Regions from separate parts of the Homo sapiens genome. Here all the other regions are linked to region 2. The links come from fine-mapping of genetic effects on gene expression. A gene starts in region 2. Each other region holds a variant in brackets. All regions are shown on one strand. Distances are from middle to middle.

Region 1 (7,363 bases), 40 kb after region 2:
TGAACTAACATGCTGTGCTGCCTTCCAAGTGGAGAATGATGGCTAAGTATCTTCTACCTAATTTGAGTCACAGAAAAAAAAAAAAAAGGTTATTAACTGCAGTGACAAGAATTGTGATTCCCCAGGGGGCAGATCAAGACTGATAGATAAGAGAAGTGAGGAACATCTGGGGAATGTCCATTGAAAATTTACTCAGAAGAGAAGAATAATTAATATAATAATATGATATATTGAATTATAATAAATAATATTTTGATGTATTTCCTTCCAGGCATGTTTAAGTTATAGACTTTGAGTATATTTTCTCAAAGGGGGTTCTATGTAAGAGACTATTTCTTAATATAGTTCCTAGCTTGGAATTGCTCTTGCTGGTTTAAGCTGAGCTTATTTTATTACAGACTTCACAACAATAACGTTTTCCTTCACTAGTCAGTACACAAGATGGTCTTCATTTCCAGTTTGGAATCCCACACTATCAGAGCCTGAGACAAGGACTAGTATGCAGTTAGTTTGTTTGGGAGGTGATTCCAGGAAGTGGGAATGAGAGATCAGTCAGCCTGCAACACGAAGGAGGAAAAGTCAATATAAGGATGAATTTGGCAATTGGCCGTTTCATGCAACTGGGGCTAAATTTTGCTTGGCTCTCTAAGAAATGTAAAGAATGCCTCCCGTAATTGCTCACCTCAAGTATTTATTCATTGGCTCTCATGCTCCATTGGTTGTCCATGAGAACTTTAGCCCTCCCTCGCTGCAGCACAGACACTGTGCTTTCTCCTAGGCTGAGCAAGCTCCTGCATCTGTGGAAACCGTCCCGGGGCAGATAGTGAAATAATGACTGCTGCGTGCTTGAGATCTGGGAAAGAGGCCACATCATAAGTGCACTGAAATCAGAGATGTGTCAAGAGATGTGACACAGGGCATCTGAGGTGTCTACTGCACCAGCTATAACTCCCTAAACGCTAATCTCAGTTCTTACAGAGGGGATGGATGCAAGGGAACAGTCATGATTGAGAGCACCGAAGAAGCTCTGTATGAACCTTAGGCAAGTTTCCTAATCTCCAAAATGAAGGTAATAATACCCACCATCCAAGATCTTCGGGAGGAATAGATGAACTAATGTATGTGAAAATGTCCAGCACAGGTCCTAACCCATAGTAGGTGCTCACCAAATGTTAGTTCCCTGCCCTCCACGTTGTGTGTATCCGGAGCTGCACTAGATGCTGAGGCAAATGGTCTCAAATGTACTTTAACACTTAATGACTGAGATTTTTTCTGAGCTGCCTACAGGTTATTGACTATATTCATTATTAATAATAATATATATGGCCACTTCAGGCAACTGGGGCTAAATTTTGCTTGGCTCTCTAAGAAATGTAAAGAATGCCTCCTGTAATTGCTCACCTCAAGTATTTATTCATTGGCTCTCGTGCTTTATTGGTTGTCCCTGAGGACTTTAGCCCTCTCTCACTGCAGCACAGACACTGTGCTTTCTCCTAGTTTCTGTGGCAAGTGACAGGAGCCCACCTCAAACTAAAGCAAAAGGGACTTCATTGGCTCTTGTAGCTAGGAATTCCAGGGTTGGCACTGGCTTTGGGCACTACTGGATGCAGGAATTCAAACAATGTCTTCAACTCTTTCTTTTGGTGTTTCTCTCAGCTGTGCTTCTCTTGTCGTTTCTTTTTCCCATTTTACAGATAAGTTCATCCGTAACTGAGAGAGGTGAAAAGGGGATGGCTGCAGAGAACTCTGGCTTATATCATCCTTGCTTGCTGACCTCAAGGTCCATGTATAAATTCTCAGAGAAGAAGCCCTCTGGTTGGTGATGCTTGGAACATGCCCTGGAGGGTGGGCCCCTTGAAGTGGAGCTTGCTGGAACCACATGGGCTGGAGCAAGGCGCTAGGGCCAGAAGAGAGAGGTAGGCAGGGCTGCTGGCCAGGCACTCTTCACCAAGACAAGGCAAGAGGAGGGGCATGATTGAGGCAGTGATACAGAAAGCAGACAGTAGAGGTCGTGGCAAGTGTGCCGTTACTTGCTACCTGTGGTTGATGGGAGAGTCACACCACATTTAGGAGGAGAGAATCCATTTGCCACTTCTGACAATGCCACAAGAATCACATATTTCATCCAGAGGTTGAATTTGGCCCATGCTGAGCTTTAAAATACAGAGCTGTCTTGGAACAATGGCTCAGTACATTCATTTGGTGTCCAACAAAGCCTGCCTCTGTTGCCTTCCCTCTCTCTGTGTGCCCTTCAAGATCTTCATTGTGCTTTGGGGAGAGAAAGAGAAAATGTCATATCAGGGTAGCTCACCCCATGTGTCCTGGACTCAGGAAAAGAGTATCTTATCACCTTACTCTTTTGTTATTATAAAAAATAAAGTTGAACGTCTTCAAATAAAATAAAGAAGTATAGAAAAAATTTTAAATTAACCTGTTATGATTCTACCTAGAGAACCATTGTCAACATCTTGGTATATGTACTTCCAGATACTTTCCTATGAATATATACATTGTAGATTTTTTAATATTAAAAGGCTATCATGCTGCTTTGTATACAGGCTTTCTTTACTGATATGTAATATAATACACAGACAAATATACAAATCCTAAGCCATCAACTCATTGAATTTTTATTCATTGTTTTTAATACCTGCATTGTGTTCCATTGTTAGGCTATGTCACAACATATTTAATTAAGCCCCTATTGATGAATATTAATTTACTCTATTTGCCAGTTCATTCCAGTCCAACATTTATTGAGTGTCTACTTACGGGCCAGGCACTCTTGTATTCATCAAGATCACCACATTATCTGTATCAGTTATTTATTGCCACAATAAAACTGCATAACAAATCACTCCAAAATGTAGCACCTTAAAACTACAACTACTTATTATTTCTCAAGAGTCAATGGGTCAGCTGAGCAGTTCTGCCGATAGGGGTCAAGGTCAACACATTTCAACTAGACTACTTGTAAAAAAGAATGAGTGTCTGGGTAGGTGTGTTCTTCTAAAAATAAAACAAGGAATGAGGAAATTGCAGGTAGGATAAGAGGGGTGGTTGGCAACCAAACCCCACAAAAGGCAGACAAATTTTAAGGAAACATAATGCCAGACTCCTATGTCATCATCCAAGTAGATGCAGTGAAGTATAACCTGGGGCGTAGTAGGGTAGGAGTGGGGAGAGCAGAGGAGAAGGAAGGGAGATTGCTTTTCATCACTTTTGGATTCCCTAATAACAGACATGACTGCCAGTATTAAAATTTAACAAAGGATATCTGATCATTAATTTTCCTGTATAAGTCACTGGTGATCTTCAACATCTCTCCCTCCCTTCCTCCCTTCCTTCCTCCCACCCTCCCTTCCTTCCTTCTTTCCTCTTTTGCTTTCAACTTCCTTTTCTCGTTTCCTTTTGCTTTCTTTCTCTTCTCCCTTTTTTCTGTCACTCTGGGCGTATGTAGTAGTGTAAAAAGGTTGACAGAGAAATCAAATATAACAGGAGCAGGGCCCTGAGAAAAGCACCTGGCATCCTGTAGGCAAACCATTGTTTCTAAAAGAAGGGACTGAGAGATTGAGGAGCTCAGGACATTGCCAAATGAACAAGGCAAGCACATTTATTCAGTACCAAACAAACGGAAAACGGCCTTTCCAAATAACTGACCTATAAAACAGCCTTTTCACAAGAGTACCGTAATTACTGGCCAACAGCAACAATGAAAAACAACTCCCAAACAAAGAAATATTTCTGGATTAAAAGCCATGAGATCTGGATTCTAACAAGCTGTGCTCCTCAAACTACAAGTACAAAATCTGGCTCTAAACTAACAAGCTATGAGCCTCAAACTGATGACTGGCATGTTTGGGTCTCCATCTCCTTCTTGGGGGTTGGGGTCTTAGAGACCCTTTTCCACGCCCTGATTCTCTTACTAGTGTGTATGCTTTCCTTTTGACTTCTCATGCTGACCGTCTGAGCAGGAGTGAGAAGCAATTTCAAAGGAAAACATCGTTTATCATCTGCTGAAAGAAACCAAAAAGAACACAGGAAAACAAAAAGACAAGGAAAGGGAATGAAAATGTAATTCATTTTATTAAAAAGAAGAATTATTCTTCTGGGACACTGGATAGAAACCTTAATGAGTTACCTAGCTATCATAAATCCTCTAACAGAGAAGAGAAGAGAAAGAAACAAAGACGGAAGAGGGCAGGATAAAAGAAAGAAAAAAGGAAGGGAAAAATGAAGGAAGGAAGTTATCTATTCATTTCTACAGAGACTCTGCTGAGCAGTAGACAAGAAGACTTGGGAAAAATTTAACTGAAACTTTTCCAAAAATCTTTTCAGAGGGATTTTTTCCCTCTGAAAAGCATCATTAGAGGCTGTTCAATACCCAAGGCAAGCCTCTTTCATATTACTTACTGTACATGAAACACTCATGCAATTGAGGCTAGCCAGAGGCCATTTAGAAATTCAATAATTATTCAACCCAAGGGGCTTTCCAAATGGTGAAGTAGCTTCTTAAGAGGAAATTA[A/G]TATTGAGCAGTATAGCAAACCTAATTGGAATCTTGAGAAAATAGTTCTGTGTCGTTAGAACAGCTAGAGGCTAAAGAAGATCAGGTTGGATGATACCTTCATTTTTGTCTCTTTCCTTAATTATGATGTAAAGGGAAAAATCTTGTTTATTTTCTATGCCAGGAGGGTAGAGGGTGATTTGGAGAGGTTCCAAGTTTATCAAAATCTACCTTCAGTCTGGCAGTAGAAAAGTTTACTTCCTTCATTTCTTTCCTATAGACATTCAAAGAGAGCTAAGGAGATCCAAAAACCTTTTTTTCTATATTTGCAATGCAAGGCAGTTGGGAATTAATGACTGATTTGTTGGTGAGGGCAGTGGGCATTGATCACAAAAGCAGTAAAGCTGTGTTTCTCAAAGAGAGAAAGTCTCTTTGAGATCTTCATTATTTTACTATTTAGAAGAGAAAGGGGCGTTATATCACGTTGGAAGCATCCATGAGTCACTAGTCTCTTCTCTATCTTTCTATGCCTTTCTGTATTAATTACTTTGAAAGCACAACATTCCAAACCCATTGAGCACACAGTGGTCTGATTTCTCCACTTGTGAAAGGTGCTAAAGTCTCACTGTAGGATTAATTTGGGGGTCCAGGCTATGGGCTTGTAGATATGACTACCTTAGACTTTGGTTCTCCTGGCAACTAACCCTTTTTGGATCGTATCTAAGTTGACCTGTTTCACAGTGAGAGAACTCCTCTCCATTACTCAGAATACTGAGGCAGATCACAAGTGTACCACACCTGGCTAATGTTAAGCCAGACAGAAACATCAGGCTCATCTCTTGAGAAGAAGGGTCGCTTATTAAGGATACAAACTATTTTTTTTTTTTTTTTTTGAGACAGGGTCTCATTGCCCAGGTTAGAGTGCAGTGGTGCAATCATAGCTCACTGCAGCCTCAACCACATGGGTATTTTTAAATAAGAAAAAAATACCATCTGATAGATATGAAGGAGCATTGGGTCACTATAAACAAAACAGATTCTAAGAGCAGGAAGAAAGAGTACAGTCTCTTTTCAATAATTTTTTTTTAAACTTGGGAAAGAACACTCACTCTATTCCTATAGACCAGAAAGCAGATAATTGTCCATTATGATTCCACATGACACTATCTTGTTCAGCTGTCACTGAAACAACTTTGAACACTGTCATATGTTCTTCCCAGCTCCTGAACTCTGACCTTTTTATGCCTTAGTTCCACTTTCACAAAAAGGGATTGATGTAATGTGCATTTCAGAGGAAACGACTATAGACATTTAGTGTCATTATAAATGTTGAGAAGTATGCTGGCAGAAATTATGCCTTAAGATCATATATGGATTCTTGTATGGTTTGAAATTGCTTAAAAGATATATATGATCTCTAAAATGTGTGTGTATATATATATGATGTCTTCTTATATATCTATATGTGATATATTTATATATATATAAATCTGTGTATATCACATATATAAATTTGCTGTTATTTGAATTGCCATTACCTCAGTGCTTAGGGGAAGCCATGCACGTTTGTTTCTTTTCAGTACCCAGAGTTAATTAACATAAGTTATCACAGAAGCTCCCATAAGCATTGAGACAATTTCTCTATACCTGTGACTATTTAAGGTTTTGAAAACAAAACAGAAGCAGGTAAGGAGGAAGTACGCTTTACTATTGAAGATTTATTAGGTACACATTTAGATTTGTGAACTCACATTGCTTAGGATGAAAGGGACTCTTGAGGATGTCTGCTGTTTGTTAGTGAACTGCCTGTAACAATTACAATTAGCACACACATGAGCACAATGAACTGGGTAGTCAGACTCAGCCAAAATGAATAGAAATAGCCTCTTACCAAATTTACTTTGAGTAGCCCTTGGACTCTGAGCACTGCTGCCCAGAGCAATATGACTGTAGGTCCAAGTTTGTCAATGACTATGCAAATGTGCTTTCTTCGCTTTTACTCTATTGTCATCTGTCTATTACAATGTTGCTATGGTGACACCTTTCCAATATCCCTGTGCTTCTTTGGTATCCTCTAAGGGGAAGCTGTAATGAAGTGGCTTGGCAAAAGAATCCTCTTGGAATTTTTTTTTTTTCATATGCTACTGAAAACCAGCATGATTTTCCTCTTATGGGAAATGTATAAAGTATGAGTTGGAAATGATGGAAATTAATCTGTACTGACTTGGGCAAGGAATGTGAATGTTATTCATTCTGTTCCAAACTACCTGAAAATATTCTCTTTCTGTTCCTACTTTCCAGGAGATAACATCTTAAGGGACACTGAAGCTTGTGCGTGTGTGAGTAGAACACGTGCTGGGGGCTCTTGAGCTCATGAGGGAGGGGCTACATGTCGGTGGGGTGATAACTGTATGCTGGAAACAATGATAGGTGGTGACCCTGGAGCACTTACCATGTGACAGGTGTTATGCTAAGCATGTTGTATGCATTCCTTCATTGAATGACAGCTACCTATATTATCCTCATTTTATAAGATGAGGTAACAGAGCTTCAGAAAGGTTAGACTCAGCTGCTATGGGTCTGTCTGACTCTGGTGTTCTTCCTCTTAAAAACTGGGGCACTTTGGAAATGAGATTCCTCGGTGATGAACAGAAATATTGCTTAGCGGCTGTATTTTTGTATCTGGCAGTTTTCCCATATTTGAGTCTTATATTCACAATCGGTATCTTTACATTACACAAAAGTGACACAGAATTAGAGTCATTTAATCCAGGGTTGATATCATTAAGTCATGACTATTTATTAAATGTTTCTTACAATATCTGAGATGATATTGCAAAAGATGTAAGTGATTTTAG
Region 2 (8,264 bases):
ACATGTGCACAATGTGCAGGTTAGTTGCATATGTATACATGTGCCATGCTGGTGTGCTGCACCCATTAACTCGTCATTTAGCATTAGGTATATCTCCTAATGCTATCCCTCCCCCCTCCCCCACCCCACAACAGTCCCCAGAGTGTGATGTTCCCCTTCCTGTGTCCATGTGTTCTCATTGTTCAATTCCCACCTATGAGTGAGAACATGTGGTGTTTGGTTTTTTGACCTTGCAATAGTTTACTGAGAATGACGATTTCCAATTTCATCCATGTCCCTACAAAGGACATGAACTCATCATTTTTTATGGCTGCATAGTATTCCATGGTGTATATGTGCCACATTTTCTTAATCCAGTCTATCACTGTTGGACATTTGGGTTGGTTCCAAGTCTTTGCTATTGTGAATAGTGCCACAATAAACATAGTGTGCATGTGTCTTTATAGCAGCAGGATTTATAGTCCTTTGGGTATATACCCAGTGATGGGATGGCTGGGTCAAATGGTATTTCTAGTTCTAGATCCCTGAGGAATCGCCACACTGACTTCCACAATGGTTGAACTAGTTTACAGTCCCACCAACAGTGTAAAAGTGTTCCTAATAGGCATTTTAGGCTTTCATGGTGGTCCCTCTCATCACAGGCCCCGAGGCCTAGGAGGACTGAATCATTTCCTGGGCCAGGCCTAGGGCCCCTGCTCCCTCTTACAGCCTTGGGACTCTGCTCCCTGAATCCCAGCTGCTCAAAGGGGCCCAGGTACTGTTACAGTAGGTAGCTAATCAGGCATGAGTGGGGTAAGAGAGAAGTCCCCACCACCCACCAGGAATGTCAGGCAACCATCAGATGATGGTCAGGCAGTTGTCATACTGCCTCTCTAAAATAGTAATTGGTTGCAGCCAGCACCAGGGAGAGGCAACTTCTCAATAGATAGAAACACCTGAAATTGGTAACTGGGCGCTTCCAATAAGATCTCAGGAACTGAGAGAGTGGGCTTAACATGCACATTAAGAGGCAAAATGGTGAAGTATGACCTTTGGGGGCATTCCACCGGAAAAGGGAAGAAAGCCTCAGGTAAGCATGTATACAACTCCAGTAAACACACTGCACACGCTCACCTTCCAAGTGCAAGCAGGGCACCATGCATGCGGCAAGCTCACCCTTAGGGAAGGACCAAGGGAAAGGGGCACAAGATGTCAGAAGTAGGCCAGTGTATAAGATCCTAGGTTCAAGGTCAAACAGGGCACTTGACCTCCAAGGTGCCCACTTGGGCCTCTTCCAAATGTACTTTCCTTTCATTCCTGTTCTAAAGCTTTTTAATAAACTTTTACTCCTGCTCTGAAACTTGTCGCAGTCTCTTTTTCTGCCTTATGCCTCTTGGTCAAATTCTTTCTTCTGAGGAGGCAAGAATTGAGGTTGCTGCAGACCCACATGGATTTGCAGCTGGTAACTCAGATAACTTTCACCAGTAAGAATACAGTTCAGGCTGCTGCTTCACAGGGTGCCAGGCATAAGCCTTGGTGGCTTCCATAAGCTGTGAAGCCGGCGGGCGCACATAATGCAAGAGTTGAGGCTTAAGAAGCTCTGCCTAGATTTTAGAGGATGTATGAAAAAGCCTGGATGTCCAGACAGAAGCCTGTTACTGGGGTGGAATCCTCATGGAGAACATCTACTAGGGAAGCAAGGAGAAGAAATGTGGGGTTGCAGCCCCCACAGAGAGTCCCCTGGGGCACTGCCTAGCAGAGCTATGACAAGACAGCCACCGTCCTCCAGACCCCAGAATGGTAGATCCACCAACAACTTGCACCCTGCAGCCTGGAAAAGCTGCAAGCACTCAATGCTAGCCCATGAGAGCAGCTGTGGGAGATGAACCCTGGAAAACCACAGGGGTGGTTCTGCCCAAGGTTTTGGGAGCCCACTCATTGCATCAGTGTTCCCTGGGTGTGAGTCAAAGGAGATTATTTCAGAGCTTTAACATTTAATGACTGCCCGGCTGGCTTTCAGACTTGCAATGGGGCCCTATAGCCTCTTTCTTTTGGCAGATTTCTCCCTTTCGGAATGGCAGTATCTGCCCAATGCCTATACCCCCATTGTATCTTTGAAGCAATTACCTTGTTTTTGATTTTACAGGTTCATAGGTAGAAGGGACTAGCTTCGTCTCAGGTGAGACTTGGGACTTTGGACTTTTGAATGAATGCTGGATCGAGTTAAGACTTTGGGGAACTGTTGGTAAGGCACGACAGTATTTTGCAATATGAGAAGGACATTAGATTTGGGAGGGGCCAGAGTTGGAATAACATGGTTTGGATCTCTGTCCCCACCCAAATCTCATGTTCAACTGTAATCCCCAGTGTTGGAGGTTGGGCCTGGTGGGAGGTGAGTGGATTATGGGGTGGCTTCTAATGGTTTTGTACAGTCCCCTCTTGGTACTATATAGTGAGTTCTGACAAGATCTAGTTGTTTAAACGTATGTAGCACCTCCCATTTCTCTCTTCCCCCAGTTCCTGCCATGTGAAGTCTGGGGTCTCCCTATGCCTTCCATCATGATTTTAAGTTCCCTATGGCCTGCCCAGAAGCTGATCCAGCCATGCTTCTTGTACAGCCTGCAGAACTGTGAGCCATTAAACTTTTCTTTATAAATTACCCAGTTTCAGTTATTTCTTTATAGCAGTGTAAGAATGGACTAACACAATTATTAACGCTAGTCCTCATGTTGTACATTAAATCTCTAGATGTATTAGACGTAACTGCAACTTTGTACCCTACCCTACAATTTTCTTTCCCCCCAAGCCCCCCAACCAAGGGTCTACTCTGTTTCTATAAATTCAGTTGTTTTTTAATTCCACGTATAAGTGAAGTACAACTCAGTGTAGAAACTTGGTAAATGCTAGCTACTTGTTATAAGCTGTCAGTCAAAATAAAAATACAGAGATGAATCTCTAAATTAAGTGATTTATTTGGGAAGAAAGAATTGCAATTAGGGCATACATGTAGATCAGATGGTCTTCGGTATATCCACACAACAAAGAAAAGGGGGAGGTTTTGTTAAAAAAGAGAAATGTTACATAGTGCTCTTTGAGAAAATTCATTGGCACTATTAAGGATCTGAGGAGCTGGTGAGTTTCAACTGGTGAGTGATGGTGGTAGATAAAATTAGAGCTGCAGCAGGTCATTTTAGCAACTATTAGATAAAACTGGTCTCAGGTCACAACGGGCAGTTGCAGCAGCTGGACTTGGAGAGAATTACACTGTGGGAGCAGTGTCATTTGTCCTAAGTGCTTTTCTACCCCCTACCCCCACTATTTTAGTTGGGTATAAAAAGAATGACCCAATTTGTATGATCAACTTTCACAAAGCATAGAACAGTAGGAAAAGGGTCTGTTTCTGCAGAAGGTGTAGACGTTGAGAGCCATTTTGTGTATTTATTCCTCCCTTTCTTCCTCGGTGAATGATTAAAACGTTCTGTGTGATTTTTAGTGATGAAAAAGATTAAATGCTACTCACTGTAGTAAGTGCCATCTCACACTTGCAGATCAAAAGGCACACAGTTTAAAAAACCTTTGTTTTTTTACACATCTGAGTGGTGTAAATGCTACTCATCTGTAGTAAGTGGAATCTATACACCTGCAGACCAAAAGACGCAAGGTTTCAAAAATCTTTGTGTTTTTTACACATCAAACAGAATGGTACGTTTTTCAAAAGTTAAAAAAAAACAACTCATCCACATATTGCAACTAGCAAAAATGACATTCCCCAGTGTGAAAATCATGCTTGAGAGAATTCTTACATGTAAAGGCAAAATTGCGATGACTTTGCAGGGGACCGTGGGATTCCCGCCCGCAGTGCCGGAGCTGTCCCCTACCAGGGTTTGCAGTGGAGTTTTGAATGCACTTAACAGTGTCTTACGGTAAAAACAAAATTTCATCCACCAATTATGTGTTGAGCGCCCACTGCCTACCAAGCACAAACAAAACCATTCAAAACCACGAAATCGTCTTCACTTTCTCCAGATCCAGCAGCCTCCCCTATTAAGGTTCGCACACGCTATTGCGCCAACGCTCCTCCAGAGCGGGTCTTAAGATAAAAGAACAGGACAAGTTGCCCCGCCCCATTTCGCTAGCCTCGTGAGAAAACGTCATCGCACATAGAAAACAGACAGACGTAACCTACGGTGTCCCGCTAGGAAAGAGAGGTGCGTCAAACAGCGACAAGTTCCGCCCACGTAAAAGATGACGCTTGGTGTGTCAGCCGTCCCTGCTGCCCGGTTGCTTCTCTTTTGGGGGCGGGGTCTAGCAAGAGCAGGTGTGGGTTTAGGAGGTGTGTGTTTTTGTTTTTCCCACCCTCTCTCCCCACTACTTGCTCTCACAGTACTCGCTGAGGGTGAACAAGAAAAGACCTGATAAAGATTAACCAGAAGAAAACAAGGAGGGAAACAACCGCAGCCTGTAGCAAGCTCTGGAACTCAGGAGTCGCGCGCTAGGGGCCGGGGCCGGGGCCGGGGCGTGGTCGGGGCGGGCCCGGGGGCGGGCCCGGGGCGGGGCTGCGGTTGCGGTGCCTGCGCCCGCGGCGGCGGAGGCGCAGGCGGTGGCGAGTGGGTGAGTGAGGAGGCGGCATCCTGGCGGGTGGCTGTTTGGGGTTCGGCTGCCGGGAAGAGGCGCGGGTAGAAGCGGGGGCTCTCCTCAGAGCTCGACGCATTTTTACTTTCCCTCTCATTTCTCTGACCGAAGCTGGGTGTCGGGCTTTCGCCTCTAGCGACTGGTGGAATTGCCTGCATCCGGGCCCCGGGCTTCCCGGCGGCGGCGGCGGCGGCGGCGGCGCAGGGACAAGGGATGGGGATCTGGCCTCTTCCTTGCTTTCCCGCCCTCAGTACCCGAGCTGTCTCCTTCCCGGGGACCCGCTGGGAGCGCTGCCGCTGCGGGCTCGAGAAAAGGGAGCCTCGGGTACTGAGAGGCCTCGCCTGGGGGAAGGCCGGAGGGTGGGCGGCGCGCGGCTTCTGCGGACCAAGTCGGGGTTCGCTAGGAACCCGAGACGGTCCCTGCCGGCGAGGAGATCATGCGGGATGAGATGGGGGTGTGGAGACGCCTGCACAATTTCAGCCCAAGCTTCTAGAGAGTGGTGATGACTTGCATATGAGGGCAGCAATGCAAGTCGGTGTGCTCCCCATTCTGTGGGACATGACCTGGTTGCTTCACAGCTCCGAGATGACACAGACTTGCTTAAAGGAAGTGACTATTGTGACTTGGGCATCACTTGACTGATGGTAATCAGTTGTCTAAAGAAGTGCACAGATTACATGTCCGTGTGCTCATTGGGTCTATCTGGCCGCGTTGAACACCACCAGGCTTTGTATTCAGAAACAGGAGGGAGGTCCTGCACTTTCCCAGGAGGGGTGGCCCTTTCAGATGCAATCGAGATTGTTAGGCTCTGGGAGAGTAGTTGCCTGGTTGTGGCAGTTGGTAAATTTCTATTCAAACAGTTGCCATGCACCAGTTGTTCACAACAAGGGTACGTAATCTGTCTGGCATTACTTCTACTTTTGTACAAAGGATCAAAAAAAAAAAAGATACTGTTAAGATATGATTTTTCTCAGACTTTGGGAAACTTTTAACATAATCTGTGAATATCACAGAAACAAGACTATCATATAGGGGATATTAATAACCTGGAGTCAGAATACTTGAAATACGGTGTCATTTGACACGGGCATTGTTGTCACCACCTCTGCCAAGGCCTGCCACTTTAGGAAAACCCTGAATCAGTTGGAAACTGCTACATGCTGATAGTACATCTGAAACAAGAACGAGAGTAATTACCACATTCCAGATTGTTCACTAAGCCAGCATTTACCTGCTCCAGGAAAAAATTACAAGCACCTTATGAAGTTGATAAAATATTTTGTTTGGCTATGTTGGCACTCCACAATTTGCTTTCAGAGAAACAAAGTAAACCAAGGAGGACTTCTGTTTTTCAAGTCTGCCCTCGGGTTCTATTCTACGTTAATTAGATAGTTCCCAGGAGGACTAGGTTAGCCTACCTATTGTCTGAGAAACTTGGAACTGTGAGAAATGGCCAGATAGTGATATGAACTTCACCTTCCAGTCTTCCCTGATGTTGAAGATTGAGAAAGTGTTGTGAACTTTCTGGTACTGTAAACAGTTCACTGTCCTTGAAGTGGTCCTGGGCAGCTCCTGTTGTGGAAAGTGGACGGTTTAGGATCCTGCTTCTCTTTGGGCTGGGAGAAAATAAACAGCATGGTTACAAGTATTGAGAGCCAGGTTGGAGAAGGTGGCTTACACCTGTAATGCCAGAGCTTTGGGAGGCGGAGGCAAGAGGATCACTTGAAGCCAGGAGTTCAAGCTCAACCTGGGCAACGTAGACCCTGTCTCTACAAAAAATTAAAAACTTAGCCGGGCGTGGTGATGTGCACCTGTAGTCCTAGCTACTTGGGAGGCTGAGGCAGGAGGGTCATTTGAGCCCAAGAGTTTGAAGTTACCGAGAGCTATGATCCTGCCAGTGCATTCCAGCCTGGATGACAAAACGAGACCCTGTCTCTAAAAAACAAGAAGTGAGGGCTTTATGATTGTAGAATTTTCACTACAATAGCAGTGGACCAACCACCTTTCTAAATACCAATCAGGGAAGAGATGGTTGATTTTTTAACAGACGTTTAAAGAAAAAGCAAAACCTCAAACTTAGCACTCTACTAACAGTTTTAGCAGATGTTAATTAATGTAATCATGTCTGCATGTATGGGATTATTTCCAGAAAGTGTATTGGGAAACCTCTCATGAACCCTGTGAGCAAGCCACCGTCTCACTCAATTTGAATCTTGGCTTCCCTCAAAAGACTGGCTAATGTTTGGTAACTCTCTGGAGTAGACAGCACTACATGTACGTAAGATAGGTACATAAACAACTATTGGTTTTGAGCTGATTTTTTTCAGCTGCATTTGCATGTATGGATTTTTCTCACCAAAGACGATGACTTCAAGTATTAGTAAAATAATTGTACAGCTCTCCTGATTATACTTCTCTGTGACATTTCATTTCCCAGGCTATTTCTTTTGGTAGGATTTAAAACTAAGCAATTCAGTATGATCTTTGTCCTTCATTTTCTTTCTTATTCTTTTTGTTTGTTTGTTTGTTTGTTTTTTTCTTGAGGCAGAGTCTCTCTCTGTCGCCCAGGCTGGAGTGCAGTGGCGCCATCTCAGCTCATTGCAACCTCTGCCACCTCCGGGTTCAAGAGATTCTCCTGCCTCAGCCTCCCGAGTAGCTGGGATTACAGGTGTCCACCACCACACCCGGCTAATTTTTTGTATTTTTAGTAGAGGTGGGGTTTCACCATGTTGGCCAGGCTGGTCTTGAGCTCCTGACCTCAGGTGATCCACCTGCCTCGGCCTACCAAAGAGCTGGGATAACAGGTGTGACCCACCATGCCCGGCCCATTTTTTTTTTCTTATTCTGTTAGGAGTGAGAGTGTAACTAGCAGTATAATAGTTCAATTTTCACAACGTGGTAAAAGTTTCCCTATAATTCAATCAGATTTTGCTCCAGGGTTCAGTTCTGTTTTAGGAAATACTTTTATTTTCAGTTTAATGATGAAATATTAGAGTTGTAATATTGCCTTTATGATTATCCACCTTTTTAACCTAAAAGAATGAAAGAAAAATATGTTTGCAATATAATTTTATGGTTGTATGTTAACTTAATTCATTATGTTGGCCTCCAGTTTGCTGTTGTTAGTTATGACAGCAGTAGTGTCATTACCATTTCAATTCAGATTACATTCCTATATTTGATCATTGTAAACTGACTGCTTACATTGTATTAAAAACAGTGGATATTTTAAAGAAGCTGTACGGCTTATATCTAGTGCTGTCTCTTAAGACTATTAAATTGATACAACATATTTAAAAGTAAATATTACCTAAATGAATTTTTGAAATTACAAATACACGTGTTAAAACTGTCGTTGTGTTCAACCATTTCTGTACATACTTAGAGTTAACTGTTTTGCCAGGCTCTGTATGCCTACTCATAATATGATAAAAGCACTCATCTAATGCTCTGTAAATAGAAGTCAGTGCTTTCCATCAGACTGAACTCTCTTGACAAGATGTGGATGAAATTCTTTAAGTAAAATTGTTTACTTTGTCATACATTTACAGATCAAATGTTAGCTCCCAAAGCAATCATATGGCAAAGATAGGTATATCATAGTTTGCCTATTAGCTGCTTTGTATTGCTATTATTATAAATAGACTTCACAG
Region 3 (8,264 bases), 26 kb before region 2:
AGTAAATGATAACAGGGCTTGAAATAGTACACCTCAGCATTTTGTTTATAAAACTGTGGAATAGGTAAGGTTTGTATTGTAACTGAACCCAGGTTCAGCTGCTTGCTGCTCTAAAGCTAGACATAAGAGAGGAAGGTTGGTGGGAGGAAAAGCGATTTTAATCGGAGAAGCAGCAAACCAAGAAGATGGTGAACAATAGTCACAGAACCATCTTAAATTTTAAAATTTACCATAGAGTGTTCAAAGGAAAACTTGGTATGGGAGGCATGCAGGAGGGGTGCAGGGGGCGGGGTCTGTGTGTCTTGTTCCAATGGCTATCTCAGATAGTCACCCATCTGGAGGTCTAGTTGGTATTATTTTGAATTCAGCCCAGTGGTGGTGGACTGTCAGTGACTCCTCGCTAAGCAGGAGGATTCTGCACTCAGGGCTCCATGCATGGTTTGTTTCAAGATTGGCCTCTGGAATTTCTCAAGCAAGAACATAATTAAATAAGCAGGCATTGCCAGAGGGGAGTGTCTGGAAAGGAAAGGAATGAAGAGATGAAAGGAAAGTGGGTGGTTAAACTATATTTTTAAAACTGAGGTTCCCAGTTATAGTATGTTTCGCACGCTCCCCCCATTTTAGCACCCCTGACAGAATTTAGTAATCTCCTCATCTTGTCCTCTACTTCAGGTCCCCTATCTGTCCTTGTACTCTCCAGGGTTTCCTTTTCTTCTTCACGACCTTCCTTCCCTGCAATTTTATAAGCTATTCCTATCCCAGTGATTTAGTTTCAGCTTATAAAACTGTGTCTTTGCCATTGTAATCAAATTGAAGGGCCTCTGCTTCATGGTTGGATTCTGTGACCAGGAGACTCTTACGAGGAGTTGGCCAGGTCTCTGTTAGGAAAGCAAAAAAGAACAATGGAGGCAATTATCCCATTGATTTCAGCTATAAATCCTATTTTGCCTGAATTGTCTGAACGATGAGTATTCTGTGAAAATGCTGCTCTCTAGTGCAATAGAACTGCAAATAATGCACATCTATTTCTTATAATCTCATCCAACATACCCACAGAGATTCAGATCTAACAAAACAGAGGTGATTTGGTTATTGAATCATAATATAAATATGGGGAAGAGGAGGGAAATTTCAAGCCTGAGGAAACTGTAGTAGGAGTAAGTATGCTGTGTTTAAGAGGTCACAGATAAAATTAATATTACCAATCCATCAATAGGCAATTACTAATAGCTTACTACACACACAGGAATAAAATGTGAAGACAGAGGAAGTGTAAAATGGAGCCGCCAACTCTACGGAGTTGTTTGCAATTTGGTCTGGTAGAAAGCTATGAAATAAGGAAGTACATGATTGAGAGCTAGAGAATGTGGCACAGGCTCTGAACCCGGACCGTTCAATGTAGTAAGCTCTAGCCACACTGGACACTTGCAATGTGGCTTGTCCAAACTGACATGTGCTTTAAGTATAAAATATAATCCAGATTTCTAAGACTTCAAAAAAAATGGAAATATCTCATTAATAATCTTAAGTTTATTACAGGTAGAAATGATAGATTAAATAAACTATATTGTCAAAATTCATTTGATCTGTTTCTACAGTATAACAAACTTACTTGTGTGGTTTGCATTTTATTTCTACTGGATAACATGGCTTTAAAAATGGTATTTTAGAGGAAGGAAAGCTTGGTAGAGAATGGACTAATCCGGATCCCTGGAAGAAATGGACCTTGAATGGGTCTTGATGACTTGGAGAGGCAGAGAGAGAAAAAGAAAAGTCAAACATAGGGAATTGGTTGATAAAATGAAGGTGAGGGGAGAAGGAACAGAGGGAGGAGAAGATCCAGTTTGAGGGATATTACAGCGAGCAGCCTGAGAAAGAAGGATAAGAAAGGAGAGAAAAAATGCAAGGGAAGTAACCCTTCAAAGCCAGTCAGAAGTTTCTGGGTTCCTCAGCAGCCAGAAAAGAAGCCGTTGAAAAGATCTGAGTAACGGAGATTCTGGACGAAAACTGAAGTTATGGAAGGGAAGTTTAGACATGGGTTATTAAACGCTTTAGCGCATTAGAAGTTTCTTATGTAATCACTAAATTCAGATCCTGAAATAATGCCACAAGAACTATACAGCTCAGCCACCCAATTCAATAAGAAGTTACAGCACAGTCTCACACATATCCAATTAACCTTGGCCTTTAGTCAACATCTGGGTTCTTTTTGTCATTTTCAAATACTATCACCCAGAGGTGCTATGATTTATATTGGGGAGGGGATTAAAAGAAAATAAGTAAGTTGGTGATAAGAAAAAGCTTTCAGATGATTCCATCTGAATTAACAGCCCTCTTTAGTTGTCTAGGAAAGAGGATGCTTTTTCTTGAAAGTGCTTTGAAATGATGATGTGCTTGTTAGTAAACATCAATTATTTTCAAATCGTAATGTTTGCAAGTTTGTCTTCCTGTAGCTCACCCTTTATGTAGGTCCAGAATATGATTGTCACAAATATCTGGGTGAGCAAGACTATGAAATGTGGTCATAAAGTAAGTGATTATTTCTAAACTCATCTTTGTCACTCGTAGTGCTTCACAAAGCACCTTTTCCTGGACTACAATTCATTTTAATTGATCCCATCAGCACTATATCTGTATCCTGAGTGACTTCACAATACCCTCTATTTCAAGAGAAACCAATCAGGTTATGGGTTTGTTAGTAATAAAAATTACCAAGGAGCAGTTTGTGGATGGTAAAAGCAATGCAAATTCTAAAGAGAAGTCATAAGAGCAATAATAAGCATCCTCCTCACTTCTTGGAAGTGAACAATTCCAAGCTCCCTGAAGCAACACTTAACCTATCATATTAAACAGTAATGGACAAATATTAGAAATGTTGATGTCAGCTTTCAGAATCTGTGGGCATCAAAACATCACTTAAGTTCTCCGAAGTATTCTCTGTCAAGTTTCCTTCTACAGTATTCTTTTCCTACTAGGACAGAGCCTTAAGCCCTAGAAGAATAATTTTGCTTGTGTGTTAATTATTTGTTTACTGGTTCATTCCAGAGTGTGAGCTGGAAAAAGGGGGAAGTGTCATAAATAGTTTTTTATGGCCCATGGTTTTTCAACTACGTCACTATTGGTAGCAGTTTCCACTGCAGGATCTATTTGCAAAGCCTAGGAAATTAGCATTAAGCAAGCTGCTAGGAAGACTTCAACAGTAACTAGGCCACAGGCCTCACACATTTTTCCTCCACCCCAGCCTCCTCTGGAGAGTACTTGCTAAACCTCTGTGACACATAATGAAGCAAAGAAAGTGATAGAACAACAGAATTACACGGGCAGATCCTTGTTTCTTCTTCTCTCTCTAAAGAATTCCTTGGACTGAAAAGCAGTTTATTTTGGAGGAGTGAGAAAGTGGTGACAGAATTAGAAGGGCCTGGGAGGGCTTCATTTTAGGAGACAGTTTTAGGCTGAAAAGAGATTTCATGAGTGTGATTTACCTGAGGTGACTTTTGGGGGCTCTTATAAAAAGGAAGTTCATGCTGAATGGGAGGTGGCTTCTGAGATGCAGATTCTGGTGAGCTAAGAGGGCTCGGTAAAGAGGAGGCAGGAGTTAAGTAGCGTGAACTATGCAGTAGCAGCCTTCTTCCCCCCTTGCTTGGGGCAGGTCATCACAACCCTTCTCAATAAAGGGGTCCAGGAACCACTAGGAATAAATGGGCATTTGCACTTCAGGTGAAACCCATTTGTCATAACTGCTTGGACTTTAAGCTTACAAATAAAAAGAACCACATATTTCCCTTTGCAGCTTGATTTAGTTAATGTCATTTTGAGAAAGAAAGAAGACATTGTTATCCCGTCCCTTTTTTTTTTTTTTTTTTTTTTTTATGAAGAGACTGGGACTCAGAGAAGTCAAGTGATTTTCCCAGAACCAGAAAACACAGAAGTAGCAGAGCTGAGATGACTACTCCGGTCTTCTGATTCCAAATTCCAAATTCATTCTTCTAAGCGATTTCCCAAAACGGGAAATGGGTTTATCTTCTATTTATGGGAAGTGATAGTGGTATTCTATTTAGAGAACTTATATAAAATCTTACTTTAAAATAAATAATATTTCAAAAAGTAAGCTTAATTTAAAGAAAATAATCAAGAAAGTCTGGTATATTTTTACAAATATACCAAATGACCTTGCTCTAAAATACATCTACTTTCCAGCAAGCCAAAGTGAAACAATTTGAAATAAGTGGCATTTACTGACCACTCCCTAAAGTTCACACAAAAGAGGTAGTACTCTAACTTAAATATACAAGGTGAAGAAATAGCTTACTCAGCCTGTTGGGCTTCCTCTTCTACACTCTTGGGAAATGCCCTCCGTGTTAACCAAGAATTCTCAGGCCTTGGAGGGAGTTTTCCATTCTCAGTAAACTGAGATTGCAGTTGCGGAAATTAAGAGGTATCTGTCCAGCACTTCATTCCCTTAAGGTCAGGATCTGTGCTTTTAATAATGACAATTAGCTAACATATACAATTAAGCCATGCAAATGAAGTAAGAGAAAGCTAGAGGAGAAATTCAGGAGCCAGTTGCCTTTTCCAGACATCTTGTACAAATAGTGTTCAAAGGACTAATTCAAAAGATGGGATTCTTCGCTTGAACCCAGGAGGTGGAGTTTGCAGTGAGCGGAGATCGCTCCACTGCACTCCAGCCTGGGTGACAAAGTGAGACCCCATCCAAAAAAAAAAAAAAAAAAAAAAAAAAAAGATGGGATTCTTTTTTAAAAAATAAATTTTACTGCGTATTTTTAAGGTATACAACGTGATGTTATAAGATGGATATAGATAGTGAAAAGGTAACTGTAGTGAAGCAAATTAACATATTCATCATCTCACATAGTTATCTTTTATTTGTTTTGTTTTGATGGGATTTTTAAGATAGTAGAAAGGAATGGTAGACAATAAACATTTGAGGGAAAGTGGGGCTTTGTAGAACTCCTAAAATGACAG[C/G]ACGCACAAATGTCCCCATTATGTCTAAAGGGTAACTCGTTCCTACTTCTAGGGACAGCTGAGGGACATCAATGTAAATTTCTAAATGACTTCCTGAACTTTTTATTTTTATTTTTTGTATTTTTAGAGGAAATTATAATAACATCAAGCCACCTCTGGACCATATCGCTGCTGATATCATCAGCAAATGGCACTATTCCTAAATCCTAAGATGCACTTTTCCCTTCACATTTCAACATTTGTGAAACTCGATTGTACCTACACCTGATTTTATATACAATGCAGCCTTTCCTTTTCTTTTGTCATTGCATCTTACGCCTGATTTCTCCTTGGAATTGAGTAAATATAATGCTTACATGTGTTAATAAGAATTGAGGTCACTCATAATTTTTGAAATATGCCACCAAATATAAGCCTTTCTACATATTGTTGACTTTGAAGTCATTTCTTTTTTTAACTACTAAACAATAACACTTTTTGTTGAGAAAAATTGCATATGAACAAGAGACCAAGCAGGTAGAGAGAAAAAAACTTTTAATAATCAAGAGAATGTTACTGTGTCCCAAAGGCTAAAGTCACCTTACTATCAAGAGAGAAGGACAGGAACAGAGAGAACCAGGTAAATTACGAATTGAAAATTCCATGGTTCATTTATCTTTATTTTTAATAATTCCATTTGTGTGATTGTGTTGACCACAAGGTCATAATGTTACTCTTCATACTGACTTCTCATGTAAATTATAAATAAGTTTTTATGCTAATGATTTATGGAGTAAGCTATTCATCTTTCCGACAGAGAGTTACCTACAAAGAAATAATTATTCTACCTCTGAGATGAAATATCATGAAAGGAGTGGTTTCCAGATATTTTGACTTTTAAAAGCTTAAAGAATATATGTAGTATAAAATTCTAAAGCAGGCAAAATTAATCCTTTTAGCAATCAAGATAGCGGCTACTTTTGGTGAGAAGGACAAGGTAGTGATAGAGAAGGGGCTCAGGGGTCTTTCCTGAAGACAGTGAGGTGGGCAATGGTATTTTCCTTGACCTGGATGGTGATTAAACAGATGTGTTTACTTTGTGATAATTGACTAGGCTGTGCACCTATGAACTGCATACTTTTCCATATATGTACTGTATTCTTATACTTAAAAAGAAGTTTAAAAATAAATGCAACAGATATAGGACTTCCTATATTACTCGTTGACCAAAAAAATGGATTCATTTTTCTTTCAGGTAAAACGTACTAGTGGTTTTAATATTATATTGACCAGGGAGTAAATGTTTACCTTAGGAACCTTAATCTTGATGTTCTCCAAAGTCATTATCTGTTCTTTCTGATTATCAGAATAGAGTATATCTCTATATAAATGAAAATTTCTGGTCATTCTCAAAAAATAACACTAAGCATGAAAATCAGAAATATTGATCTTGTTTTGTAATGATGTTTCTATTGATGTGAAGTAGTTTCTAGTAGAGTTGCTGTCCTAACACACAAATGAAATTGCACTGTTTGGAAGACACAACTGTGAATGACTTGCTTCAGTAAGGAATTTCCAACATGATGGTTTAGGGATAGAGGTGCTCGATTCCTCTGTCTCCGGTTACCCAGGTTATTGAGGACAGGGAGGTCAATAAGTAATGCCCTCCTCCCACCCATAGCACAAAACAGAGCGGGGTTCAGAGAATAGGTAAGGCTTTGGCCAGGGTGTTGAGGAGACTTACATCCCTGGGAACCAGTCAGAATGGGGGCGCTGAAAACAATGTTTTAAATTCTAGCACCCAGCAACATATGTGTGAAGATTAAATGTACTCGTGCTAAATTCACTTGCTCCATTACTGAATTTGGGTGGTGTCTGTTAAAGATGGGAACAAAGGCATTCAGGTCCTGGTATCTTCTACCACTCCCAGCATGAACAGACTCATGTCAGTGGGTAAGGGATGGTATTTCCCGAGAAGGCTTTGAACTCTTGTAGTGGGTCAAATAATGGCCCCCCACTTAAAAATGTTCATGTCCAAATCCCTGGAAGCTGTGAAAAGGGGTTTTTGCACATGTAATTAAGTCAAAGATATTGAAATTAGATCATCCTGGATTACATAGGTGGGCCCTACATTTAATGACAAGTATCCTCATAACAGAAGAGGAGAAGGTGATGTGAGATTTGGAGCAGCAGAGATTGGAGTGATGTGGCCACCAATCAAGGAAACCAAGGACTTCCAGCAGCCACCAGAAGCTGGAAGAGGCAAGGAAGGACTCTTCCCTAAAGCCTTTAAAGGAGCACAGCCCTACTAACACCTTGCTTTTGGGCTCTGGCCCGCAAAACTGTGAAAGGATACATTGCTGTTATTTGAAGCCACAGTTCGTAGTAAATTTATTACAGCAGCCCTAGAAACTGATACAACTCCTAAATACACCCTTAGCAACACTGCTCAACAAGAAGTAGGCAATTTCCTCCTGACTGAAAAATACTGATACTGTTATGGGATCCTTGGGGGTGTTGCTTTTCTGTCCAGAAACCTCTGTGGCGGTGGCACCTTTGCATGAGTTTTGCTCGGGTCCACTGGGCCCACTCATCCTGGCAGGCTGCGCTCAGCTGACACTACTGGCGTGGATCCCATGCCTCCAAAGAGACTGGAGCGAAGCGGTGAGGGATGTGTGAGGAAGTGAGCGTGGGGTCTGGCACACAGTCAGGCTCAATGGCTGCTACAGCGGGATGGGCAGCTTCAGGTGCTGGCACGGGTGCTGGCTCACTGCAAGGCTGTGGCTGCACCAAGCAGCGCAGCAACGGAACGCATTGGTGCCTGGAAACTTGGAGACTCCAGGAACCTCAGGGCTCCAAAAGGCAAATCACAGCCCTAGCTTCGGGAGCTCCCAGGTCTGGGCTGCCAAAGGGCTGCAGCTCTTCTCTCCTCTCTCTCTCTTCGCTCCTCTCCCTTTCTCTCTTCACTCCTCCCTCTTTCTCTCTTCACTCCTCCTGTCGCCTATGAACAGCGAATTCAACCTTCCAGTTTTCAGACTAGGAATGCTGGAGTTGTCCTTGATTACTCTGAATTGTTCACTCCGCATATGGGCACTGAGGATACGTTGATGAACTACACAGACAAAAAGGATAGAAATTCCTGTCAAGACTACATTCAATAGGGATGAAGCAGGCAATAATGAATAAACATACTAAGTTGAATATGACTATTTAAATATATATAACACATATGACTTGTATAATGTTAAATATTTTAAGTTTTTTAAATTCTTCCCTTCATAGATTTTACATTATAGTAGAAG

Evidence for each region.
Region 1: its variant is fine-mapped to the expression of C9orf72 in monocytes after Pam3CSK4 (Quach 2016, PIP 0.95).
Region 3: its variant is fine-mapped to the expression of C9orf72 in whole blood (TOPMed, PIP above 0.99).

What each region holds. Positions count from the first base shown.
Region 1 is chr9:27,530,618-27,537,980 of GRCh38, reverse strand. It overlaps LOC124902107 (dapper homolog 3-like), which reads right to left. Exons shown (of 2, transcript XM_047424279.1): 2 at 7,281-7,363. Among named protein-coding and RNA genes, the nearest start is that of MOB3B, 4.5 kb to the right of the region's middle. RefSeq lists a silencer at 1,896-2,190. The variant A/G (reference allele first, on the strand shown) is at 4,527.
Region 2 is chr9:27,569,757-27,578,020 of GRCh38, reverse strand. It overlaps C9orf72 (C9orf72-SMCR8 complex subunit), which reads left to right and starts at 4,540. Exons shown (of 11, transcript NM_018325.5): 1 at 4,540-4,590. RefSeq lists enhancers at 3,931-4,458, 5,057-5,146 and a silencer at 4,467-4,546.
Region 3 is chr9:27,595,357-27,603,620 of GRCh38, reverse strand. No RefSeq gene overlaps it. Among named protein-coding and RNA genes, the nearest start is that of C9orf72, 26 kb to the right of the region's middle. The variant C/G (reference allele first, on the strand shown) is at 4,984.